Linked DNA regions of Homo sapiens. The protein of the gene in region 6 interacts with the protein of the main gene of each other region in a biochemical or structural test. Each region holds a gene or a part of one and is shown on either strand. Other genes may lie near its edges. The genes, in order: CARD11, MAST2, GRIP2, SIPA1L2, HTRA3, TMEM225B and MPP7.

Region 1 (3,500 bases), about 97 Mb from region 6:
GGCCTCCTGCGGGGCCACTGCTCCCCATTCCCCACCAATAGGACCATGGCCCACATTTCTACAGCACAGATCTGCTGGAAGGCTTCTTCTTTTCAGCTAAAAACAATCTCAGCTCCAACCCTGTCTGCTCACTTTCTATCCACGCCAGCTATCAGAATTTCCTAAACTGCTGTGGCCCAGACTTAAAAAAAACAAAAACACCACCATCTGCTCTTGCCATCCCCAAGGTCAGCGTCCACCACGGAGCCAGCCCCCGGCAGCTGGGGGAGCCCTCCAGTGACGCGGACAGAGAGCCTTTTCTTCATCCAGTGCTGGGACGAGGAAGAGCTCAACGCTTAGGTCACATTGTCTGGCTCCAAAGACTCCACATTGCACACAGACAACCTTTTTGCATCGTTGCCAATAACCCTTGTGATGCCCCGTTTTCCCCTCGTTTGGTGAATGCAATACCTGTCACCTTCATGTTCATCCTGTCTCTCGCCCTGATGAGCTCGTTCTCTATCTCTGGCCCTTGTTATCACAACCAGACACACACACTCCTAAATAATGCGAACACACACCAGCTCCAGGAAGCCAACACAAATAGAAAGCTCCAAAATAAAAACTCACTTCAGAGCCCAGGGAACAAGGGTGCAGAGAGGGAGTTAACACGGGGCAGCTGCTGGGACAAGGGGAAAAGGAGAGGTCTGGCCACGGGGAGGTGAAAACAACTCTTCATCCCACCCTTGTCCCTGGCCCAGGTGGCCTCATGAGGATCATCACGGAGGGTCCTGGCCCCATCCAACCTCCCAGTCCCCGCCTCACCTTGGCGGCCACAGCTTCAATGTTGGCAGGGGCGATGCATTCGAACGCGTTGGGGTTCTTCTCTCGGGAGTAGATGATGGTCTCCGTCTTCTGCCTTCTGAGGAACTCATCTCTTGTGACGATATCTGCAGAGAGAGGGGCCAGTCCTGAGGGCAGCACGAGGTGGCCTTGGGTTGACCATCCCACTCAGGCCCTGCCTGCCACCTTCTGGGCTCTACAGAACTCGATGTCCGATCCCCTTCCAGCCATGTTTAAATGAATCTCGTCTCCCCTCGACTAGACTGTGAAGCTCCTTGAGGGCAGGGCTAAGGTTAACCTTCTCCATACTCCCCATGGCAGCCCATAGAGCAGGTGCTTGGCACCTCAGCAATACCTTTCACTGGACAAAGCAGCTCAGGCACCGTGGTGCAAGGCTGATCACCAGTCTAAATAAATCTCCTGTTCCACCCACCCACCCACCTACCCATCCATCCACCCACCCATCTACCGACCCCTCACCCACCCACCCATCTGTCCACCTACCTATCCACCCATCCACCCATCCCCTTATCCATCCATCCATCCATCCATCCATCCATCCATCCATCCACTCATCCATCCATCCACCCACCTATCCATCCATCCATCCATCCATCCATCCATCCATCCATCCATCCACCAATCCATCCACCCACTCACCCATCCACCCACCCATCCTTCCATCCATCCATCCACCCACCCATTTATCTATCAATCTGTCCACCCACCCAGTCACCCATCATCCATTCAGCCATCCTTCCATCCATCCATCCACCTATCCAGGGGGAGGAGGGGTGATGGGGAGGAGGAGGAGGGAAGAAGAGGGAGGAGGGAGGGGAGGATGAGGAAGAAGAAAAGGAGGGGAGGAAAGGGGAGGAGGGAAGTGAGGAGGGGGAGGGGAGGAGTGAGAAGTTGGAGGAGGGAGAAGAGAAGAGGGAGAAGGGAGGAGGAAGGAAAGGAAAGAGGGAAGAGGAGGAAAGAGGGAAGAGAAGAGGGGAGGAGGGAAGAGAAGAGGGGAGGAGGGAAGAGAAGAGGGGAAGTCGTCCTGGTTCATGGCTCCCGCGGGGCTCCCCAGGTGGCCGTGGCTCGCCGCTCACCTGACTTGCAGATGGTGAACTCCATGGCACCTCCCGAGTTGAGCAGCCTCTGCACCAGCGTCTTGGCCAGCACGGTGGGTGTGAAGAGCACGGGCCGGCGGCGCTCGCAGTAGAAGGCGCGTACCAGGCTGTAGGGGATGAGGCTGAGGTTCTTGCCCAGCTCGCTCTCAGGGTCCAGCTCTGGCAGGGGCAGGAGAGGGTGGCGGTCAGACCCCTGGGGCTCCGAAGACCTTCCACGGAGGACGGGGCCCCTGGGCTGGGTCCTGGAAGCCACCGTCAGTGTGAAGGCCTGGCTGCTGCCCCGGGCATCCAGTGTCTGAGGTCACCTCGGGCTGGCACTGCTTGGGGCTTGTGTGCCAGGGAGGGGAGGTGTGGTGGGGGGCAGGCAGAGTGTGTGACAAATGCAGGAACCTTGGCTGAGCTCTGGAGGGAAAGTTTGCCTTGTCAGACGATCAAGGAGGGCTTCTTGGAGGAAGGGTAGGGACTGGGTACAGCCCAGCGGAGGGGAGGGCGAGGGCAAGGAAAGCAAGTGCCGGCAGGCACCCACGAGACACCAGGACCAGCGGCCAAGGCCTTGGGTGTCTCCCAGGAGCACTGGGAGGGACGACTTGGCCTCAGTTCTGCTTTCTCAGTCCCTCTGTGGCTGGAGTGGCAGAGCCACACAGAAGCCCGGGGTTCTGATGAAGCCACCCCCAGGCAGCCCGAGGAAACAGCTCCCAGAAACGGGCAGCCTGTCCCTTGTCCCTTGTGCCTTTTCTTGTACCCTGGCCTGGCCACTCCAACGTCCAAAGGGCCAGCCCGGGAAGCCGCCCCAAGGCCTCCTTTGAGATCCAGCCAGGGCTGTGTGGCTTCCCTTTCCCTGAGCAGGGCCAGCCAGGGCCAGCGGGGTGGGGGACGGTGGACCGGGAGGCCCCTCGCCGGGTTGATAAATGGCAAGTGGCACTCAGTGGGTAGAGAAATCAATAAAACGAACACTTCACAGCAAACAGCCCCAATTAACACGGGTACCCGGGAGCGAAGCAACCACACGAGAGCGTCGTTATTGGGTGAGCTTGGCGGGATGTCACCCCGAGGCAGCATGGTCCTCACAGCCAAGGCCAGGCTCCCTCACCGTTTTAATTTCTTTTTGTCTTTTATTTTTATTTTTAGAGCTAGGAGTCTTGCTGTATGGCCCAGGCCAGAGTGACTGCAGTGATGTTATCTTGGTTCACTGCAGCCTCAAACTCCTGCTCAAGTGATCCTCCCACCTCAGCCTCCCAAGTGGCTGGGACCATAGGCACGTGACACCATGCCTAGCTATTTACATATTTTAAGATTTATTTTTAATGCTTTATGTTTTTATTTTAATGTTTTTATATATTTTATAGTTATATATATATATATTTATTTATTTATTTTATTTTATTTTTTTTTCTGAGACGGAGTCTCGCTCTGTCACCCAGGCTGGAGTGCAGTGGCGGGATCTCGGCTCACTGCAAGCTCCACCTCCCAGGTTCACGCCATTCTTCCGCCTCAGCCTCCAGTGTAGCTGGGACTACAGGCGCCCGCCACCGCGCCCGGCTAACTTTTTGTATTTTTAGT
Region 2 (3,500 bases), on a different chromosome or scaffold from region 6:
ACTTACAAGGGACGTGAAGGACCTCTTCAAGGAGAACTACAAACCACTGCTCAGTGAAATAGGATACAAACAAATGGAAGAGCATTCCATGCTCATGGGTAGGAAGAATCAATATCGTGAAAATGGCCATACTGCCCAAGGTAATTTTTATAGATTCAACACCATCCCCATCAAGCTACCAATGACTTTCTTCACAGAATTAGAAAAAACTACTTTAAAGTTCATATGGAACCAAAAAAGAGCCCGCATCGCCAAGTCAATCCTAAGCCAAAAGAACAAAGCTGGAGGCATCATGCTACCTGACTTCAAACTATACTACAAGGCTACAGTAACCAAAACAGCATGGTACTGGTACCAAAACAGAGATATAGATCAATGGAACAGAACAGAGCCCTCAGAAATAACGCTGCATATCTACAACTATCTGATCTTTGACAAACCTGAGAAAAATAAGCAATGGGGAAAGGATTCCCTATTTAATAAATGGTGCTGAGAAAACTGGCTAGCCATATGTAGAAAGCTGAAATTGGATCCCTTCCGTACACCTTATATAAAAATTAATTCAAGATGGATTAAAGACTTAAACGTTAGACCTAAAACCATAAAAACCCTAGAAGAAAACCTAGGCATTACCATTCAGGACATAGGCTTGGGCAAGGACTTCATGTCTAAAGCACCAAAAGCAATGGCAACAAAAGCCAAAATTGACAAATGGGATCTAATTAAACGAAAGAGCTGCTGCACAGCAAAAGAAACTACCATCAGAGGGAACAGGCAACCTACAAAATGGGAGAAAATTTTCGCAACCTACTCATCTGACAAAGGGCTAATATCCAGAATCTACAATGAACTCAAATTTACAAGAAAAAAACAACCCCATCAAAAAGTGGGCGAAGGACATGAGCAGACACTTCTCAAAAGAAGACATTTATGCAGCCAAAAAACACATGAAAAAATGCTCACCATCACTGGCCATCAGAGAAATGCAAATCAAAACCACAATGAGATACCATCTCACACCAGTTAGAATGGCAATCATTAAAAAGTCAGGAAACAACAGGTGCTGGAGAGGATGTGGAGAAATAGGAACACTTTTATACTGTTGGTGGGACTGTAAACTAGTTCAACCATTGTGGAAGTCAGTGGGGCGATTCCTCAGGGATCTAGAACTAGAAATACCATTTGACCCAGCCATCCCATTACTGGGTATATACCCAAAGGACTATAAATCATGCTGCTATAAAGACACATGCACACGTATGTTTATTGCGGCACTATTCACAATAGCATTTACTGTTTTTCTTTCCTTGTATCCTATTTACTACTCAATCTTCTGCCTTCCAGTTTCCCTTCCCACCAGTCTACCAAAACTGTTCAGGCAAAATTCACCAAGGAACTCACTGGCCAATTGCCAAATCCTGTGGCCACTTTCAGTTCCCATCTTCTGCCACCTCTCGGTGGAGCACAGTGAATACTTCCTAAACTTCCTTCCCCAGTTGTCAATTCACTGTTCTCACCACTCTTGCTGCCTCTTCACAAGTTCCTTTGCTGCCCACCTCTTCCTACTGGTGTGTCACAGGGCACCATCCGGCATGCCTGGTCTCCCCTTTCTCTTTCCTCCACTCTCTCTCTGATGTCTTGCCACCTGCTCCCATGTCTTCAGTTGTCATCTCTACGCTGAGGACTCCCACATGTGGCTGCCACTCTTACTGTTCTCCTGAGCTTCAGATCAGTGCACCCAGCTGCCTGCTGGACTCCTCCACTTTGACTTCCCTATATTGGTTCTTATTCTTTGGTTGCACGTAATAGAAACTGATTCAGAATAGTTTAAACAGTAAAGGGAAACATTATAAGAGTAAAAGGAGTAGGTCTTAGAGAATTGAAGCGAGGGATATAACCAGGCCTTAAGAAGGAACCAGAACTAGAAACCAGAAGCTCCAGGAAGCTCAGGAAGTCTTCATTCTTCCTTTTTCTGTATGCATCTTTTCCTCTATTTCCATGGTAGGTATGCATCTCTTTTCACAGTTCTTAAACGGTTCTGCCACACTGACGTTAACAGTTGTCTTTCTATCCTTTTTTAAATTCCTAGGAAAGTGATCCTCTCTGGTCAGCTATTAGAGGTGGGAGGGAAGGTACAGACACACAGTACAAATGTGGCTCCTAGAAACCAGAGCAGTTCTCAGGAAAAAAGAGAAAGGCCCATCGGCCAAGCAGATACCCAAGAGACTCTCATATAGGTGCCTGAAACTGCACGCCCAGAACTGAGCTTATCTTTTCTGCCTAGCTGTTCTTTCTCTAAAACCAAATGCAGTACATTCTTTACCTATCACCTAAATGGCTTCTTATAGTTACTATTTCACTTATTCATTGTAATTTTCCTAAAATTGAAGTTGTAGTTGCCTTCTGTCGTGCTTCTTTCACCCCTTATCTGCTTCTGTAGTAACCCACGTCTATCCCCTTGTCTGCATTCTTCTGCCTTGACCTATGCCTTTTTCATCTGAATTATTAGAGTTGCCTGCTAATGGGTTTTCCTGCATTTAGCCTTGCCCTCTTTAGTGTACTCTCTACACTGCAGCCAGAGTGATCCTTCTGAAGTACTTTCTGGTCATATGACTCCTCAGCTTTGAGGTCTTTCTACTCCTTACAGTCTAGGGTGGAAAGTGAACATCAGTGAAGGCACCATTGAGAGCTGCCCCTTGAGCTAGGGTCTGGAGGGTAAGTGAGGCTTGTTGGATGGAGGAGCAGGTACAGCTGTATGTCTGTGTGGCATTTCTTGGTGTCATGTAGTGTTCTAAAGCAGAAATGGTTCCCTATGAGCAACTCGCTCCCTCTCACAGCCAGCCAGCCTTCTCTGAGTTCCTTGCTTTGCGGAGCTCTCTATGCTACCGAATTGTTTCTCCCTGGAGTCAGCTCTGCCCTGTCTGGTCCTGCTTAGCCCAGCCACACTGGGCCAATAGATTAAGCAACGCTTCTTTTCTCTATAGGCTCATGAGCGCTCAGAGAGCTCAGAAGTGGCTTTTGTGATGCAGCTGGTGAAAAAGCTGATGATTATCATTGCCCGCCCAGCACGTCTCCTGGAATGCCTGGTGAGTGGACTCTAGGAAAGTCAGGTGGGCAGATTTAGAGGAGGACTATAGAGGAAGTATCCTGATGACAGCAAAACTGTGGTGGTAACCACTGCCATTTCTGTTGCTTAGGTCCTTATTTAAATATGATTTGCCACCATTGGGGGACTAAACAGGTTTTTGTGAGGACAAATGTATGGTCCTGAGGGGATGCGGCAGGGAGAATTATTAGTCTAGGCCACCCCCACATGAGCAGGGCTCACATCAGTGGGGGTCTTGGGGGTGAGAAGCGTCAGGAGCATAGCCCAGTTTAGTTTGTACAAGTTGAGTCCTTCATTTTATCTTCAGCAATACTTGACTGAGTACCTACTTCCTGCTAGACACTGGAGATACAGACATGAATAAAGCACAGTCTCTGATCTTGGGATGTTTCCT
Region 3 (3,500 bases), on a different chromosome or scaffold from region 6:
TATACTCCTATTAATGCAACCAGTGATGAAACCAGCTTTGGGGCATCTATGCCAGCAGACTCAATTCAAACCCTCAAGTTGTTTCTCTGCCCCACCTTCCCACCCTCAGTTGCTGCTCTTAATAATTTGAGCTTCCCTGGGCAAATGAGGATTTGTCCTAGTACATTTTAGCCTGCTCCTCCCAGCCTGCCCAGGGCTCTGGTCCCAGGCCTCTCAGGCCTCATGACTGCCCAGGTTTGGGCCCTGAGATCTACTGAGGGGACCCACCTGCCTCTGAGGGCCTCAGTGGCCGCTGACTCTGGGGCACAGGCAGGATCTCCAGCCGCACCTTCTCTGAAATGCTGGCCAGGAGCTTGGTGGCCTCAAGCAGCGAGCAGTGTTCCATGCTGGTGCCATCGATGGACAGGATGTGGTCTCCAGGGTGCAGGGCTCCGCTCCTGGCCAGGCAGGGGAGTGAAGGCGGAGGCTGGTCCAGGCCAGACAAAGCTCTGGGCCGCCTCTCCCCTGCACACACCTCCATGGTGGCAGCACCCAGGGTGTGCCTTACCTGTCCACCACGCTGGCTGGCTTGATGCGGTCGATGGTAATGACTGACTTGTTCCGGAGGGAGGTGGTGGTGAGCGAGATCCCCAGGGCAGACCCTGGCGTCTTGACTATTTCCACCATCAAGGGTCCCGAAGCATTAGCCACCGTGTCTGGCATGACGGAGAAAAAAAGTTTGAAATGCAAATACCGAGCACTTTCCTCCCCAGCCTCACCCTGCTATCCTGATTTAATCCTTGCTGCCTGGAAGAAACTGTTATACCCATTTGATTAACATAATTTTTTATTCCTTTTCTTTCTTTTTTTATCTTCTACCAAATGTTATATCAATTTGACAGATAAGATAGCAGTGGAGGAGGGGCAGGAGCTCAGGTCTGAGGGGCTGTGATCCCAGGGCTTTGCTGGGTGAAATGAATTTGCTTGAGTTTATGAAGAGCCTGTGGTATACCAGCACTAAACTGTAAAGTTCACTACAACCCATCCCCATCTCAGGAAATGGCACCTCCATTAACACACCCAGTGGCTGGAAATTAAAACTTTGGCCGCACCCTTAGCTCCTGCCCTCGCCCACCCATGTCTAAATCTCAGCAGATCAGGCCAGCTGGACCGTCATCATATTTCCTGAATCCCGTGCCTTCTCCCCTCCTTAGCCACCAGCCTGGTTCAGTCCCTTAGCTCTCGCTTGGACAGCTGCTGCCGCTTCCTATGGCCTCCCGGCTTCCACCTCACCCTGCTCTGCCCTTACCTCCTTTCACTCACCTGTGCCAACCACGGCAGCCTCCTCACTGTGACCAACCATGCTGGCCATGCTCCTGCCTCAGGGCCTTTGCACTTACTCTTCCGCCCTCCTGGAATGCTGTCCCTGGACATTCCATGCCTCGCTCATTCCCTCACTCCCCTAGTGAGAGAGCATCCCCCAGCCTGTCCCATCTCTCTCCCCTGCCTCTTTTCTTTTTTCCATAGCACTTATTGCCAACTGACATACACCATATCTTATCTATTCTGGATACTGTCCTCTCTCCACCAGAATGCCAGCTCCATGAGAACAGACACCTCAATTCTGTTGTTCTAGGCTGGATCCCCAGCACATCAAACAATGCCTAGCACATACTATTTACTGCCCAGAGAAGCTGTGACTGGCCCAAGGTCATAAGGTCATGCAGCCTTTGCAGTGGTAAAGATCCATGGCCACTGCCACCTCCCCCCATCCCAGGCCTCCTCCTGCCCCAACCCACACACTCAGGCCCCCAACTCACCAGGGGTGGCCACATCATACTCCACCTGAAAGAGTGCCTCGTGGCTGCACTGCCGCAGGGTGGCCAGGGCGGTGGCATGGCTGGCCCCGTGCAGCGGGATTCCATCGACACTGAGCAGCCTGTCGCCCACCTTCAGGGAGCCCTCCCTGTAGGGAAGGGCCAGTCACCAGCCTGGCCCGGCAGCAGCACTGGGCACAGCCTGTCTGGGAGGGCGCTGGGAAGCGGGACATGGAGGATGAAGAAGCAGGGAATGGGTGGGGGAGGAAGGGGAGGAGGGGACGGGTGAAGGGGCGCATGAGTGAGTGAAGGAATGAGCCACTCCAGGAGTGGGGAGCTGCATAAAGCAAGGGGGGGATGAAGACAGGATGGGGTGGCTCTGCCGCCTGCCACTCCTCTGGGTGTGCAGTAATTCACAGACTCAGTGCAGAACCCTGAAATGTCTGAGCTGGGGGTGCTCTTCAAGCGTCACCCCCAACTCCTGCCTCAGGGACAAAGGACAGCACCAGGGCCCAGAGAGGGTGCAAGCTGTGCCCATGCCACACGGCATTGGGGGCTGCTCTGAGCCGTCCTGGTCCCTTCCCATTGCTCCACCCTCACCCTGGTTTCTCAGCGGTGATTCTGGCCTGATGACAACCCGCGCCTGGGAAAGAACTCAACAGGGGCCAGGGGAGGGGCCCCAGCAGGGTTCACCTCGGTTTGGGTCGCATCCCCAGCCTGGAACGCCTCTCCCAACAGGTGGCCAAAGCTATTCTCGGGGGTTCTATGAATAGCTCATCACAGGGCCCTGTCCCAAGGACAGATTTAGATTTCTGACAAGGCCGTTCCAGGCTTCTCTTAAAATGGCCAGGAATCTCCCACTGGGGAGGCCGAGGGATCAGGGGCTGGGAACTGGACATGTTCTTTCCCCACATTCTCTCCTCCTGGCCCTTCTGGGCTGGGCCCAGGCGGGGCCGAGCTGGGTCGATCAGCCAGGACCCAGGAGACTGAGTCACAGACGGCTACAGCAGTGGCCAATCAGCGTGCCCCCAAATCTCTCATAGCAACTCTTAGGGACCATTCCACAGACGGGAAAACCAAGGAGCAGGAAAGGGAAGAACGACACCAAGGCTGCCCCTCTCCAAACACCCCAACCCCTGAGACAGCAGTATGTTGGGGAAGAAAGGGCTCGAGGTTTCCCTCATTTGGGGTTACATCCCGGTTCCATCAACAACTCCCTGAATGACACCGGGCAGGGAGTGTTCCCTCAGGGCCTCGATCTCTTCATCTGGGGAAGGGGCATGGTGACCCCACTCCACCTTCTTCGCAGGGGAGTTGGGGCAGGTCAGTGCAGTGTGTGGATTTCTTCTGCCTCGGCTCACCTGTCGGCAGGGCCACCGGGCCGCACGTAGGTCAGGACAAGCGGGCGGGACTTGTGCCCATCTTCATGGGCACCTCCTGGACAGGATTTGACAAGAAGCAGGAATCATCCACCCACCCCTTCCCATCCAGAGGCTCCCACACAGCCCCTGAGCAGGCTCCTTCAATAAAACCTGTTTGAGGACCTTGTCCTTGCTATCCATGGACCCTCTTATGAGACACCAACAATAAATTCGCCCTCCCAAGAGATGGTGCAAGGGGTGGGTAACATGACCAAAGTCTTCTCTCTGTTAAATGGCTTGCCTCCCTTCTGTGACCTCACCTTATTTCCCCTTTTCCCTGATC
Region 4 (3,500 bases), on a different chromosome or scaffold from region 6:
CCTGTGCCAGCAGAATGGCTCTAGCAAAACAACGTTCCCGAAGGCTCAGACAATGATTTAGCCACTTTTCACTTCACTCCTGAGTCACCACGGAGGCCCAGCTTCATCCTCCCATCTGGTTTTAACCTCTCTTTACCCAAATATTACTCACTTTGCCTCCTAGAACTATTCTGGTCTGGGTGGCATAAAGTAGGGCACAGAACCGTTTTAGAACTCCTGAGTAACCCACTAGGTGCACAACTTCTTAACAAGTTAAGGATTTCGTCACCAAGCGGGGGAGACCTCACGTGTCAACACACAGTGTCTGGGCTCTGCCACACAGTTCCAGCACTGGCCCCACTGTTGGTGGCAGTGTGCAGTGCCAAGCAGGTCCAGAAGGAGGCAAAGCCTGCTGCTCTGCTACAATGGAAACCAGACTCACTGATGCTCACATGACTGACCGTGGTCAAGCACAACTAGAATCCCTATCTAAGGGACCCTTTGTCACAGCCTGTTTCACAAATGCAAAGCTCAAAGCAGCAGCAAATGGCACATTCACAATGAGTCCCATCAGAGAAACAGTAATGTGACAAACGGCACCAATGTGTCTTCATGGTTATCGCCCGTGAAAGGAAGGGACTTATTGGGCATTCACTCTACTTGCTACTATCCTCACTGCTTTTAAAAAAGCTGTTTTGGCTGGGTGCGGTGGCTCACGCCTGTAATCCCAGCACTCTGGGAGGCTGAGGTGGGTGGATCACCTGAAGACAGGCGTTCGAGACCAGCCTGGCCAACACGGCGAAACCCCATCTCTACTAAAAATACAAAAATTAGCCGGGCGTGGTGGCACATGTCTGTAATCCCAGCTACTTGGGAGGCTGAGGCAGGAGAATTGCTTGAACCCGGGAGGCAGAGGTTGCAGTGAGCCAAGATTGCGCCACTGCACGCCAGCCTGGGCAACAGAGCGAGACTCTGTCTTCAAGAAAAAAGAAAAGCTATTTCACTGAAAGCTACAGATGGATTTGCCTGGGCAAGCGATGTTGTCACACAGTTTCCTGTGTCCTGCCACTCCCCTGCAGAAATCCTTTCACAAAGTTATTCAACAGCCTTTCAGTGATGATGTGTCACAGAAATACACCTCAGCATCAAAAGCAGACATTTCACATTAACTACCCAATAAAGAAGAAATCACATTATTAAAGTATCGCACTTTAAACATTTGCCATGATTGGGAGCCAGTTAATTCTCTTGAAAATGAAGTTTTACACAGAACCCTGAAGCACAGAACAAAATAAAAGCACTCTGGAAAGTATTGAAAGATAGATCCCTGAAAGTCAGTTTCCAAAGAGAAAATCCTTGAGAGAAGGGAAAAGCAAAAAAGGGAAAGAAAAAAGCTATCTCAAAAACATCGTTATCTGTGCCAGTCTGCCCAGGCCCTCTGTTTTTAAATACAATGAAGCTCACCCAACTCATGATGTTTGCAGACAGAAGGGTCTTGCACAACTGTGTCCAGTGGCTGAAGCGGGAATGGGAATCTACTCCCACACCATAGGAGGCCTCCACCTCACTGTACTTTTCACTTAAGAATCTGGGCTGCTGCCTCTGCCTGGAGTCCTTAATGGCTCAACAAGAGACCAGCAAGAGCAGGAGCAGATGCCATTGTAACCAATTTCACTTTGAAGTCACACTGGACCACAGGGGAAGAGCTAAATATAGGAGGAGGCAGGACACAGTTCACAGCTGCGCTGGAGAGAGAACAGAGCAGCCGGGGCTCGGCCTTCTTCTCGCTCCTGGTGGCCGCTCCTTCCCCAGCCCGAGCCCATCTGCAGGCACAACAGCACCTTCCACAGCACAGAATCACAGAACACTGAAGACAAAGTGACCTCACGGATTGCCTCCCCACTCCCTCATTTTGTGGGCTTTGCAAAGCACAGTCATGTACCGCATAGGGATATTTCGGTCAACAATGGACCACATACATGACGGTGGTCCCATAAAATCATGATGGAGCATATACAGAAATCTGATGCATGGCACTTGATATTGGCAGTGCAGATGAATAAGGGGAAATGTCTGATATTCAGTAATGGTGCTGGGACATTTGGTTTTCAATATGAAAATATATATATATATATGAATAAAGATATATATCTAGGATTGTGTAAGTATACTCTATGATGTTCACGCAATGACGAAATTGCCTAATAACACATTTCTCAGACCATATCCCTGTTGTTAACTGATGCGTGACTATAGTCTAGAATTCTGCTTTCTGACTCGTTTATAAATCCACTGCAAAGCTCAGAACCAGAGAGTGTGCCCAACAGCACCAAAATGCCAAACGATAAGCGTACATCCACCCACAATTCACTGACAGGGTGTCTACACTCAGATTCTTCTTTGGAGCTTATTTATTTCACATTCAAACCTAAGCAGTTTGATGATGTCATTTGCAATGCTCTTGAAAAACTAAGTAGCTCATCAGAAAAGGTGGAGGAAATAAATCACTTGCAGAGGAGTCTTTAAAACTACCAAGAAGTGACAGTTGAGAATTCAAGAGAAAAACTACAAGTAGCAGTCAAGAAAACTAACAGAATCTAGCAACCTAAAATCATCTCGGGGAACAGACCCTGGGGACATTAATGAATCAAATGGTGGTGACCGGGGTGCACAAAACAACAGTTTTTCATTCCACTTACACTCAGACATGTGCAACAGCATATGAATGAGACGCTGGCACTAAGTTTTGGCATAAATATGAACATATATATAATTTTATGTTCTAGTATTTCAAAGTCTGAATCACAAACTATTTACAAAACTCAGCTAGCCAGAATGACTAATTACCTGGGGATTTCAGGGCATAATAAATCCAACAGACTTTATTTTATTAAGAATTGGCAGCCATGGCTTCATCAATAAAAATAACCTTAATTAGGAAGCCTATCTCTCCATCTCCCTTTCCAAAAATAACTAACTTCCACCTAGAGAGCATCCTTGAGCAGTGTGATATAATGTGATACCTCTGCATGAACACGGGCATGAGGGTTATGAGTTATTTTCACAGCAGAGACAAAAAAGCAGGTCCAGGATTCTTTGATTCCACTGGCTGGAAGGAAGTAACTATGGTGTTAACACTGAGGCACACCTGAAGCCAAGACCGAAATTCAGGGTGGAGGAGAGGAAAGGAGACACAACAGGGGACCAAGATCTGTTGACAAAACTATTTCAGTCCTATTATGTCATCAGTATGAGGACAGAGAGACAATTCACACTAAGTGACCAGATGCAGTGTAAATATCTGTTTATTTAGCTTTATTGCATCAGATCATTTCTCTGATTCATGTTGTCATAATGTGATTACAAAAGACATGCTAAGTCTGGATTGATGCAAAAACAGGAGGGGGAATTATTAATAATCACAATTTATCTGGCAGACAAATTCTTTTAAGTCTATACTCCATGAGAAAAAGTAATAAACAGGCTTCACAGTGGTTTAACGTTATAAGGGACTGAAGTGG
Region 5 (3,500 bases), on a different chromosome or scaffold from region 6:
AGCCACAGGCTGAGCCCGCATTGCCTGTGCAGGCAGCCACGGCACACAGGGACCTGGGCCCAGTGTGAACACAGCAGAAGGAGGAATGGCAGCACCTCTCCTCCCACAGGTGATTAGAAAAGGCTGCCTTCCTGTGTGTCTCCATCCTGGACTCAGACACTCCAACACCCAGGGCCGGAAAGCTCTCTGGACCCCAACGTGTCCACCCCCTGCTTGCCAAAGCCCAGCCCCTGGACCCCCTCAAGCGCCTGGGCTGCTGGGCCCCTGAGCTCTGACGCGGCAGCCTGAAGATCTGCACAGCACTGCGGCCTCCACCGGAAGGACTTTCTCCCCAGTGTGGTCTCCCAGAGGTCACTTAAAATAGGTGACACTCGATTTTATAGGGGATGATTTGTTTTAAAACCCTCTGTGAAATATTCGTTAAGTAAAAGCCTTGCAGGAAACATCAAAATTCTACTACATGGTGGTTATTTGTGGTTGGGGTAAAGTTACAGTGACTTTTTTTCATTTTTCAAAGAGAAAATAAAACAGGGAGGGAGAGCAAGGCCTGAGACAGAAGGGCCGTGGGGCTGGGCTGGGAGGTGGCCTGTTTCCCACAGAGTCTCCAAAGAGAAGCCCGCACGTGCCCACCCCACACCCCAGGCTCCTTTGGGACAGAGACCATCTGGTTCGCTTCCACACCCCAGTGGTAACCAGCACAGGGTGAGACAGCCGCTGAGACATTTCAGAGGGAAGGGATGGAGGGGGAGGAGGGGCGGAGAGAGGAGGGGAGGAAGATAGAGAGAAGGGAGAGAAGTTCAAGGGGGCCCTTCTTGATGCTCTCTGAGCCAGCACACAGTAGGTCTGCAAAGAGCACCCTGAAGAAAGAATGTGGGTCAGCTGATTAACCAAGTCTCCAAGCAGCCTCACAAAAGCAGCAGCACTCGCCCATTTTATGGCCCAGGAGACTGAGGCTTAGAGGCAAAGATCAATCACTGAGGGAGGGCAGGCCTGGCGCTGGCCCAGGTCTGCTGGATTTCAGGGTCTAGGCAACCCCAGAGCCTGGGGCACCCCTGCAGGGCCCCACCAGGTCCTGTCCCTTTAAGCGGACCTCGGTGGGTGGTGGGGTGGGGGCAGGGGCCCCCGTGCCCCAGCTCCTCCTCCCAACACGCAGATGAATCAGCCATGAATCAGGGGGAAGGGAGGACGCGGTTCCCACTGCCTCTTTCCACAGGAAAACCGTGGGCCCCACGGCTGGGAAGCAGACTCTGTTTATTTGGGGGTTTTTGACAACCTCCACCCCCACCCCATCCTCGAGCCAAAGTTCTGAAGTCAACAGTCAGTCTCAACCAGATTCAGCCGTTAGCCTTTTTTTTTTTTTTTTCCTCAATAAACTGGAATCTAAAGCCCTGGAAGTTTCAGTCAGGGAGACCCTCACACAGAGCAAAGCAATCAAGGCCCGAGGCTAGGTGTCCGGTGTCACATCCCAGGAGAGGAAGGGGCGCAACAGGGCAGGGGAGACAAGTAGGGTGCCAGGGCTCCAGCTCCAACAGCCCTGCCTGATGGAACTCCCAGGAGTCCTGGGGGACTGTGGCCAACCCTGAGAGAGGACCACGTGCTGGCTCTGGACAGTCATAACTGCCATGGAACAGATGGCGACACTGAGGCCCAGATACTCTGTGGGGATACCTTGTGTTTGTACACTGCGTAACTCCAGGCCCTTACTGACAAATATCAGAGTGGCCAGCTTCCCTGCAGTTGTGCAGTGCACAACCTGCCCAACTGTATGCATCAGTCCCTCTAGCACATAATGTGCAGAGCTGGGACTGACACCCAGTTCTGTTCCTCCATCTCTAAGGTCCCTGCCCCTTCTTTTAGTGCCCTCTGCAATTAGCAGACCCCTCTGCCACCCAGTGGTCAGCTGTGAGCTGGGGATGGAGGAGCCATGAGTGGATAGCCATGGGTCCCAGGCTGTGCCCATCTGTCCATAACGGTGACCATGGTCTACAGACCAGATGGCAACCTCTAAGCAGGGCATTCAAGGCCTGGGGTGTCCTGGTCCCATTGACATCTGCAGCCTCACGTGCTGCCACTCTCCCCTGTGGACCTCGGCTCTGCTTCCTGCGCGTGCAGGCTCCTAAGTGTCACTGTGCCTTTGCACATGTGGTTCCCTCCTCTGGGAATATGCCCTTCCTGTCATTCCTCAGGGCCCAGGCCAGCAGCGCCTCCTCTGGGGAGCCTACCCTGACTTTGCAAGCGTGGTGATCCACCTCTCCTTCTGGGCCCAACAGCACCTCGTACCCTTCCCAAAGCTAGTCCCTTGGGAGTGTACCTGTGGCCTGCACCCCTGCGTCTGGGCTGGACCTGGCCCGCTGCAGTGGGCAGGAAGCAAATGAGGGAGCGAATGAATGCTCTTCAGAGACAGAGGAGCCATTCCAGGGGCCCCCTCAACAGCCCCCAGCCCCGCCCACCACTAAAGGGGCTGCCTCCTGGGTCTAACTAGTTCCCAGGGCAGCTTCCTTTGCTTTTCCTCCTCTGGAAAACTTGCCTGTCCCCTAGTGAACTTTGCCCCACCGAGCCATGTCCCCAAGTGAACCGTGCCCCCACAAGCCTCAGGTCCAGCTGTGGCTCCCCGTGGGGTGGATGCTGCCATCTGCCACCCTCAAGCCCAGAGACCTGTTCATGTGGAACGCAGGCGGGATGAGGGCTGCAGCCCAGGCCCAGAGGAACCCGCTGCCTCCCCCTCCACGGGCCACACCTCGCAGGCGGGACCCGATTTGGGCATGGGACGTCAGGCTGGGCTCCGAAGTTTGTGATCTCATTGAATTCTTGCAGCAATTCTGCAAGACAGGAACTGAGTCCATTTTACAGGCAAGGAAACAAGGCTTAGAGAGGCCACGGGACCTGCCCAAGGTGCACAGCCAGGCCCCGCAAGCCCTGACCTGGGCGCTTCCCCTGCTCCGTGCTGGCCCTTGGCAAATGTGACAACCTGTCCAGCCCCAGAAAAGCTCAACCTAGACCCGAGCTCAATGTGGGGCCAGCCTGGCTCCTCTGGCTGTGAAACTCCACACCCAGCTGGGCCACAGCCAGCCCCTGGGAGGAGGAGGAGGTGCTGCCGCCAGCCTGCCTGTGATTTACCAAGAAGGCTGGTCCTTGTGCACAGTGCCATGGGTCAGGCACTTCCATGCCACTGAAGGCAAGGAAGACAGCCCCTGGCCCTCCTCTTACAGGAAGCCCTCCCTGCCTTGACCGGGGCCAATGAAACTCCCTCCGGCAGGGCCAGCACATGGCAGCACCTCCACAGACACCGCCTTCCAGCTCCTCCCCTTCCTCGACCCCTCTCCCTCACTCTCACTAACTCCACTTCTGTAAGACGCGTCCACCTGCCATCCTTTCTTCACATCAACTTCTATGAGCCCGGCACCGTGCAAAGCACACTCAGTCCATCATCTCATTTGCCCAGTGACCAGTGAGGGGGGTCCCACTGTTATCCATTTCACAGATGAAGAAACTGAGGTGCA
Region 6 (3,500 bases):
GAGGATTGCTTGAGGCCAGGAGTTCAAGACCAGCCTGGGCAACATAGCCAAACCCTGTTGCTACAAAAATGAGAAAATTAGCTGAGCATGGTGGCATGTGCCTGTAGTCCCAGCTACTCAAAAGGCTGAGGTTGGAGGGCTCCTGCTTGAGCCCAGAAGTTCGAGGCTGCAGTGAGCTGTGATCATGCCACTGCATTCCAGCCTGGGAGTGAGAGTGAGGCCCTGTCTCAAAACAACAACAACAACAACAACAACAACAACAACAACAAAACACAAAAAATTAACCAGGCTTGGTTAACCCAAGGGTAGACTCTGGGATATCTGGGGCTTCAACAGCAACTTTGACTCCTTATCCCACTGCCAGCTGCCCACCTCTGCCAGCTCAGGAGGGTATGCAAACTCATTTTCACATGGGTCTGCATCATGCCAGCAGTCAGAGAACAAATCACCCTGTTATCAGACTCTGGCTCTGCTAATTTTGGTCTATTTCACTACTTCTGTTATTGTTGTTGCTTTTACAGATGGGGACTCACTCTGTTGCCCAGGCTGAAGTGCAGTGGCGTGATCATGGCTCACTGCAGCCTCCAACTCCTGAGTTCAAGCGATCCTCCCGCCTCAGCCTTCTGAGTAGTTGGGACTACCTGTGCTCACCATAGCTCCCAGCTAATTTTTTAATTTTATGTTTTGTAAAAAACAGGATCTCGCTTTGTCACCCAGGCTGGTGTGATCACAGCTCACTGCAGCCTCCAACTCTTGAGTTCAAGCGATCCTCCCACCTTAGCCTCCTGAGTAGTTGGGACTACAGGTGCGCACCACAGCTCCCAGCTAATTTTTTAATTTTAGGTTTTGTAAAAACAGGATCTCGCTCTGTTGCCCAGGCTGGTGTGATCATAGCTCACTGCAGCCTCCATCTCCTCAGCTCAAGTGATCCTCCTGCCTCAGCCTCCCAAGTAGCGGGGACTACAGGTGTGCCCCACCGTGCCCAACTTTTTAAAATTTCTTGTAGAGATGGGGTCTTACTATGTGGCCCAGGCTGGTCTCCAACTCCTGGCCTCAGGCAATCCTCCCACGTCAGCCTCCCAAAGTGTTGAGATTACAGGCGTGAACCATTGCACCCAGTCTCACTCCTATTAACTAGGAAAATTAAATAAAGATGTGGGGATTCCCTCAGCGTTCAGAACATTTTGACCTCACAAAGTTTTGATTTTCCACAGGCGAATTACTTCAGGGTAACCAATACAGGTGTGATTCTTCACATTTGCATGTGCAACAAATTTTATCACAAGAGTTTGATTTTGTGTTGCTTTTTAAAACCACCATTTTCCCCTAGTGGATGATACATGGTTTGGTACAACCAAATTCCCATAATAACATTTGTTAAGGCCAGGCACGGTGGCTCACGCCTGTCATCCCAGCGCGTTGAGAGGCCAAAATGGGAGGATCGCTGGAGCCCAGGAGGTTGAGGCTGCAGTGAGCTATGATGGTGCCACTGCACTCTAGCTTGGGCGACAGAGCAAGACCCTGTTTCTACAAAACATAAAAATAAAAAAATTAGCCAGGTGTGGTGGTACATGCCTGTGGTCCCAGCTACTCTGGAGGCTGAGGCAGGAGGATTGCTTGAGCCTGTGAAGTCGAAGTTACAGTGAGCTGAGATTGCACCACCACACTCCAGCTGGGGCGATAGAGGGAGACCCTGTTTCAAAAAAAGAAAAAATATGTTTATTAAGAACTGGTGATTTCAGTGTCTGACATTGTCAATTTAATTTTTTTTCCTATATTTCTATGCCATTGGGAATCAAATTGTGGGGCCAAAGCATTCTTGGGGCCAAAGTGGCATGGTCACAACCTTGGTCCCAAGGCCATGCTTTGGGATCTAAGGGTGGTGGAGGCTCCGGGGGCCAGCCCTGCCCAGGCTCTGAGGGACTCTGACCTTTCCGGGTCAGGGTTCCCAGCTTCAGCCCCACTTCTCCCTCCCCTGCAGTTTACATCATCCTCGGCCGGGTTTTCCTGCTCTCTGCAGTTTTCTTGGCTTTCGTCACCACCTTCATCATGATGCCCTTTGCATCCGAGTTCTTCCCGAGGACCTGGAAGCAAAACTTTGTGTTAGCCTGCATCAGCTTCTTCACAGGTGTGGAACAGCTAGGTGATCCCTGACCTTCGCTAGGGCCTGGGGAGGAGTCCAGAGAAAGAGGGGTGCTCAGTCTCTGTGATGTCAAAAGAGGCATAATTTTTCTTTTTAGGGACAGGGTCTCACTCTGTTACCCAGGCTGGAGTGCAGTGGTGCTATCATAGCTCACTGCAGCCTTAACCTCCCAGGCTAAAGTGATCCTCCCACCTCAGCCTCCCAAGTAGATGGGACTCTAGGCATGTGCCACCATTCCTGGCTAATTTAAACATTTTTTTTTTTGGTAGAGATGGGGATCTCGCTATGTTGCCCAGGCTGGCCTTGAACTCCTGGTGTCAAGCGGTCCTCCTGCCTCAGCCTCCCAATTGCTGAGATTACAGGCATGAACCACTGCACCTGGCCCCTTTTGACATTTATAAAGGGTGACCCAGGCTCCACCCTGAGAGGCTCCTAGGCAAATGGTGGAGGTAGAGCAGTAGGAAAATGGGATTGCATTTAATCCAAAGTGTTGCACCCTCTGCTAAGGTGCAGAGGTGAGCTAAGGGCAGATGCAGAGGGTGCTAGGAAAGGGAGTTCTGATGATGGTTCCCTGGAAGGTAAAGCACATGGGCTTTGAAGATGAGTCAGAAAGGAGGGAGGGACAGGCATCTGGGTAGGAGTTTTGTTTCAGAGAGGGGGCAAGGATGAAGGAGCCTCCAGGCAGGAGCCACAGGGGGTGAAGTTTGGAGGGAAGGCGGGTAGCATGGGAGGAGACCGAGGGTGTCTCCCTGTGACCCTCCAGGGGCCTGTGCCTTCCTGGCTTTGGTGCTGCATGCCCTGGAGATCAAGGCTCTGAGGATGAAGCTCGGCCCCCTGCAGTTCTCCGTGCTGTGGCCTTACTACGTGCTGGGCTTCGGCATCTTTCTGTTCATAGTGGCTGGTGAGTGTCCAGGGAACAGTGCCCTGCTTCTTGTCCTCGGTCTGGATTTAGGAACCTGTCTTGTGGAGGCCCTCCCTTTGGATTCTCTAGAATTGCACTGTTCCAAACCGCAGCTGCCAGTTAGACGTGGCTATTTAACTTTCGTTAATTAAAATAGTTATTGGCCAGATGTGGTGGTTCACACCTGTAATTCCAGTGCTTCGGGAGGCCGAGATGGGTGGATCACTTGAGGCCAGGAGTTTGAGACCAGCCTGGCCAACATGGTGAAACCCCATCTCTACTAAAAATACAAAAATTAGCTGGGCGTGATGGCACATGTCTGCAATCCCAGCTACTCGGGAGGTTGAGGCAGGAGAATCGCTTGAACCCAGGAGGCAGAGGTTGCAGTGAGCCGAGATCACATCACTGCACTCCAGCCTGGGTGACAGAGCAAAACTCCATCTCTAAAATAAAATA
Region 7 (2,286 bases), on a different chromosome or scaffold from region 6:
TAACATTTTTTTTTCCACTTTGAAAGTCACAGATGCAATGATTTTCGACGGGCAGGGCTTCACTGCATGCAAGAACGGCAGGATATGCTCTCTTATAGAACGGATAGACATTTCTAGCATTTTGAATTATATAATTCACTTGCTGAAAATCAGTAGTATCAAAGAAAAGTGAGAGAACCCATCTAAATATTTACAATATAAGAGTCTTTCCTAAACTTCTTTAACAATGGCAAGGTTAGGATGGTGTCTGGACAGTGTTAACAAGCATTTTGATGACAAAGAAATAACATCACATGAAAAGTTTTCTAAAATAAATCTTAGAGCAATTTAAAGAGGGGTGATCTATTGCACATAGATGAAAAATAATCTTTAATTGTATCAGTAATATGTAAAACAGGTTTTACATGTTTTAGAATAGAAATCCTTCTTCTAATTTATTGGAAAAATCCAAAACCAGCTAAAATAACATTTTGGGTGACTTCATAAATTGTCTTCTGAGGAATTACAAATAAAAATATCCTTTGTAATCATTTCTTGCCACAAGGCTACCATTCTTACTTATATTAATCCCAAAGGAAAGGCTTTTCGTTACATATATAATAACTGTTAAAAGTCTACTTTCCCTTATTAAATGTTGTTGAGTCACTGACAGGTACTCAAAAGGACTTCTCAAGCTATATTATGAAGGCCATTCACTCAAGGTAAAATTTCAGTTACTCCTTTAAGAATTATTTTAAAATGCACACACTGTGAACGTATTGCGAATATGTAAGAAAGTCTACACTTTTTGAATAGTAAGAGGACACCTTACTGCCTGCCCGGCTAAATCTGTGATGATCCACCCAGAAACAGCAGAGCTCACCTGTCTGTCTGGAGCTGCTCATGGCTGCTGAATTGATACCTTCAACAGCTAACATTCAAACTCGACAGCAGCAGCCACACCTGAGACCAGCAGAAGCGCTGAACTCCCATACATACTAAGCCTCTAGCTAAGTCTCTCTGAAAATTTCAGCCTCATCTTGGAGATAGAGCGGTATTGAAGACAACGAGAAGGTTTGAGGTTTTGCTTAGAATACAGTACTGTGCATATTTTGATTTCGGATCTTATACTAACACATGGCGTTTGAAATAAGGCTGTAAAAAGATACAAACAAAACCAGCATTCAACTTGAACCAAGATTGTACATCTATGACAGTGATATAGATTTAAAAACCCTACTACCAAAACTGTAATTGATTTCATCATGCACTCTATAGAAAAAGACAATTATGGAAATTTCTCTTAGTTATGAATGTAACCAGCTCACTGGCACCCAATGGGTCTCTGTCTCTAATTTGTCAAAAGTTGTTTTGAGCTCATTGAATGCCACAGTGAGGTCATCATTTATTATAATTTTGTCAAAAAGATGACCATATTGACTTTCCATTATCTGTGCAGATTTAATCATTTCTTGAAAATCTTCTTCCTACAAAAGGAAGTATTAAAAAAATAATTGGTTAACCAGGCCATTACCTCACTTCATATCAATGCAAACATTCTACAATTGGTTTACCTAATGCTGTTCTGTGTTCAGTCTTTCCCCTCAGCCAGAAATAAAAGTCATCCTCTTTAACCACAAGTGCTTCAGAAGCCATAATTTCTAATACTATTTCTATGATTTGCTTGTAACAAAAAACTACTCTGGCAAGAGTCAAAACTCCTGCCTTAACTGAATTGCAGGATAATGAGTCACTAGTCATCATTATGGGGAAATGTCAGTATTAAAATAGCTATTGGAGAAAAGAATTGTTTACTCTGATGTTTTGGCTGCATTATTTATGCTTATTCATAGGAAGGAATTTATAATATAAACTCCTTTTTCAGAGTTGGACAAATTTGTAAAAGGATGATTACCATGTTTTTTGTTTTTTGTTTTGAGATAGAGTCTCACTCTGTCACCCAGGTTGGGGTGCAGTGGTGCAATCCTGGCTCACCGCAACCTCTGCCTCCGGGGTCCTAGCAATTCTCCTGCCTCAGCCTCCCGAGTAGCTGGAATTACAGGAGCGTGCCGCCACACCTGGCTAATTTTTGTATTTTTAGTACAGATGGATTTTCTCCATGTTCACCAGGCTGGTCTGGAACTCCTGACCTCAAGTGATCCCCACCTGCCTCGGCCTCCCAAAGTGCTGGGATTACAGGCATGAGCCACCACGCCCGGCTGATTACCACGTTCCTTCGATGTCTCATTAAAAGTGTTTCAGGAGCCTTCGTGTCTCACATTTTTAAAGCCAGGAAGTATTTTAGTT

The links.
Region 1: the proteins of TMEM225B (region 6) and CARD11 interact in a test that uses a peptide from one of them, tested with the Homo sapiens proteins (one large-scale study listed by IntAct).
Region 2: the proteins of TMEM225B (region 6) and MAST2 interact in a test that uses a peptide from one of them, tested with the Homo sapiens proteins (one large-scale study listed by IntAct).
Region 3: the proteins of TMEM225B (region 6) and GRIP2 interact in a test that uses a peptide from one of them, tested with the Homo sapiens proteins (one large-scale study listed by IntAct).
Region 4: the proteins of TMEM225B (region 6) and SIPA1L2 interact in a test that uses a peptide from one of them, tested with the Homo sapiens proteins (one large-scale study listed by IntAct).
Region 5: the proteins of TMEM225B (region 6) and HTRA3 interact in a test that uses a peptide from one of them, tested with the Homo sapiens proteins (one large-scale study listed by IntAct).
Region 7: the proteins of TMEM225B (region 6) and MPP7 interact in a test that uses a peptide from one of them, tested with the Homo sapiens proteins (one large-scale study listed by IntAct).

What each region holds. Positions count from the first base shown.
Region 1 is NC_000007.14:2,911,368-2,914,867, forward strand, and holds part of CARD11 (caspase recruitment domain-containing protein 11), read right to left. Parts: intron 2,100-3,500; coding exon 1,920-2,099; intron 930-1,919; coding exon 805-929; intron 1-804. UniProt on the Homo sapiens protein: Adapter protein that plays a key role in adaptive immune response by transducing the activation of NF-kappa-B downstream of T-cell receptor (TCR) and B-cell receptor (BCR) engagement.
Region 2 is NC_000001.11:46,016,612-46,020,111, forward strand, and holds part of MAST2 (microtubule-associated serine/threonine-protein kinase 2), read left to right. Parts: intron 1-2,984; coding exon 2,985-3,086; intron 3,087-3,500. UniProt on the Homo sapiens protein: Appears to link the dystrophin/utrophin network with microtubule filaments via the syntrophins. Phosphorylation of DMD or UTRN may modulate their affinities for associated proteins. Functions in a multi-protein complex in spermatid maturation.
Region 3 is NC_000003.12:14,519,843-14,523,342, forward strand, and holds part of GRIP2 (glutamate receptor-interacting protein 2), read right to left. Parts: intron 3,234-3,500; coding exon 3,158-3,233; intron 1,946-3,157; coding exon 1,800-1,945; intron 1,781-1,799; exon of another isoform or gene 1,352-1,780; coding exon of another isoform or gene 1,303-1,351; intron 696-1,302; coding exon 548-695; intron 438-547; coding exon 268-437; intron 1-267.
Region 4 is NC_000001.11:232,508,134-232,511,633, forward strand, and holds part of SIPA1L2 (signal-induced proliferation-associated 1-like protein 2), read right to left. Parts: intron 1-3,500.
Region 5 is NC_000004.12:8,276,254-8,279,753, reverse strand, and holds part of HTRA3 (serine protease HTRA3 isoform 1 precursor), read right to left. Parts: intron 1-3,500. UniProt on the Homo sapiens protein: Serine protease that cleaves beta-casein/CSN2 as well as several extracellular matrix (ECM) proteoglycans such as decorin/DCN, biglycan/BGN and fibronectin/FN1.
Region 6 is NC_000007.14:99,604,767-99,608,266, forward strand, and holds part of TMEM225B (transmembrane protein 225B), read left to right. Parts: intron 1-1,981; coding exon 1,982-2,128; intron 2,129-2,906; coding exon 2,907-3,044; intron 3,045-3,500.
Region 7 is NC_000010.11:28,052,779-28,055,064, forward strand, and holds part of MPP7 (MAGUK p55 subfamily member 7), read right to left. Parts: intron 1,467-2,286; coding exon 1,287-1,466; 3' UTR 1-1,286. UniProt on the Homo sapiens protein: Acts as an important adapter that promotes epithelial cell polarity and tight junction formation via its interaction with DLG1. Involved in the assembly of protein complexes at sites of cell-cell contact.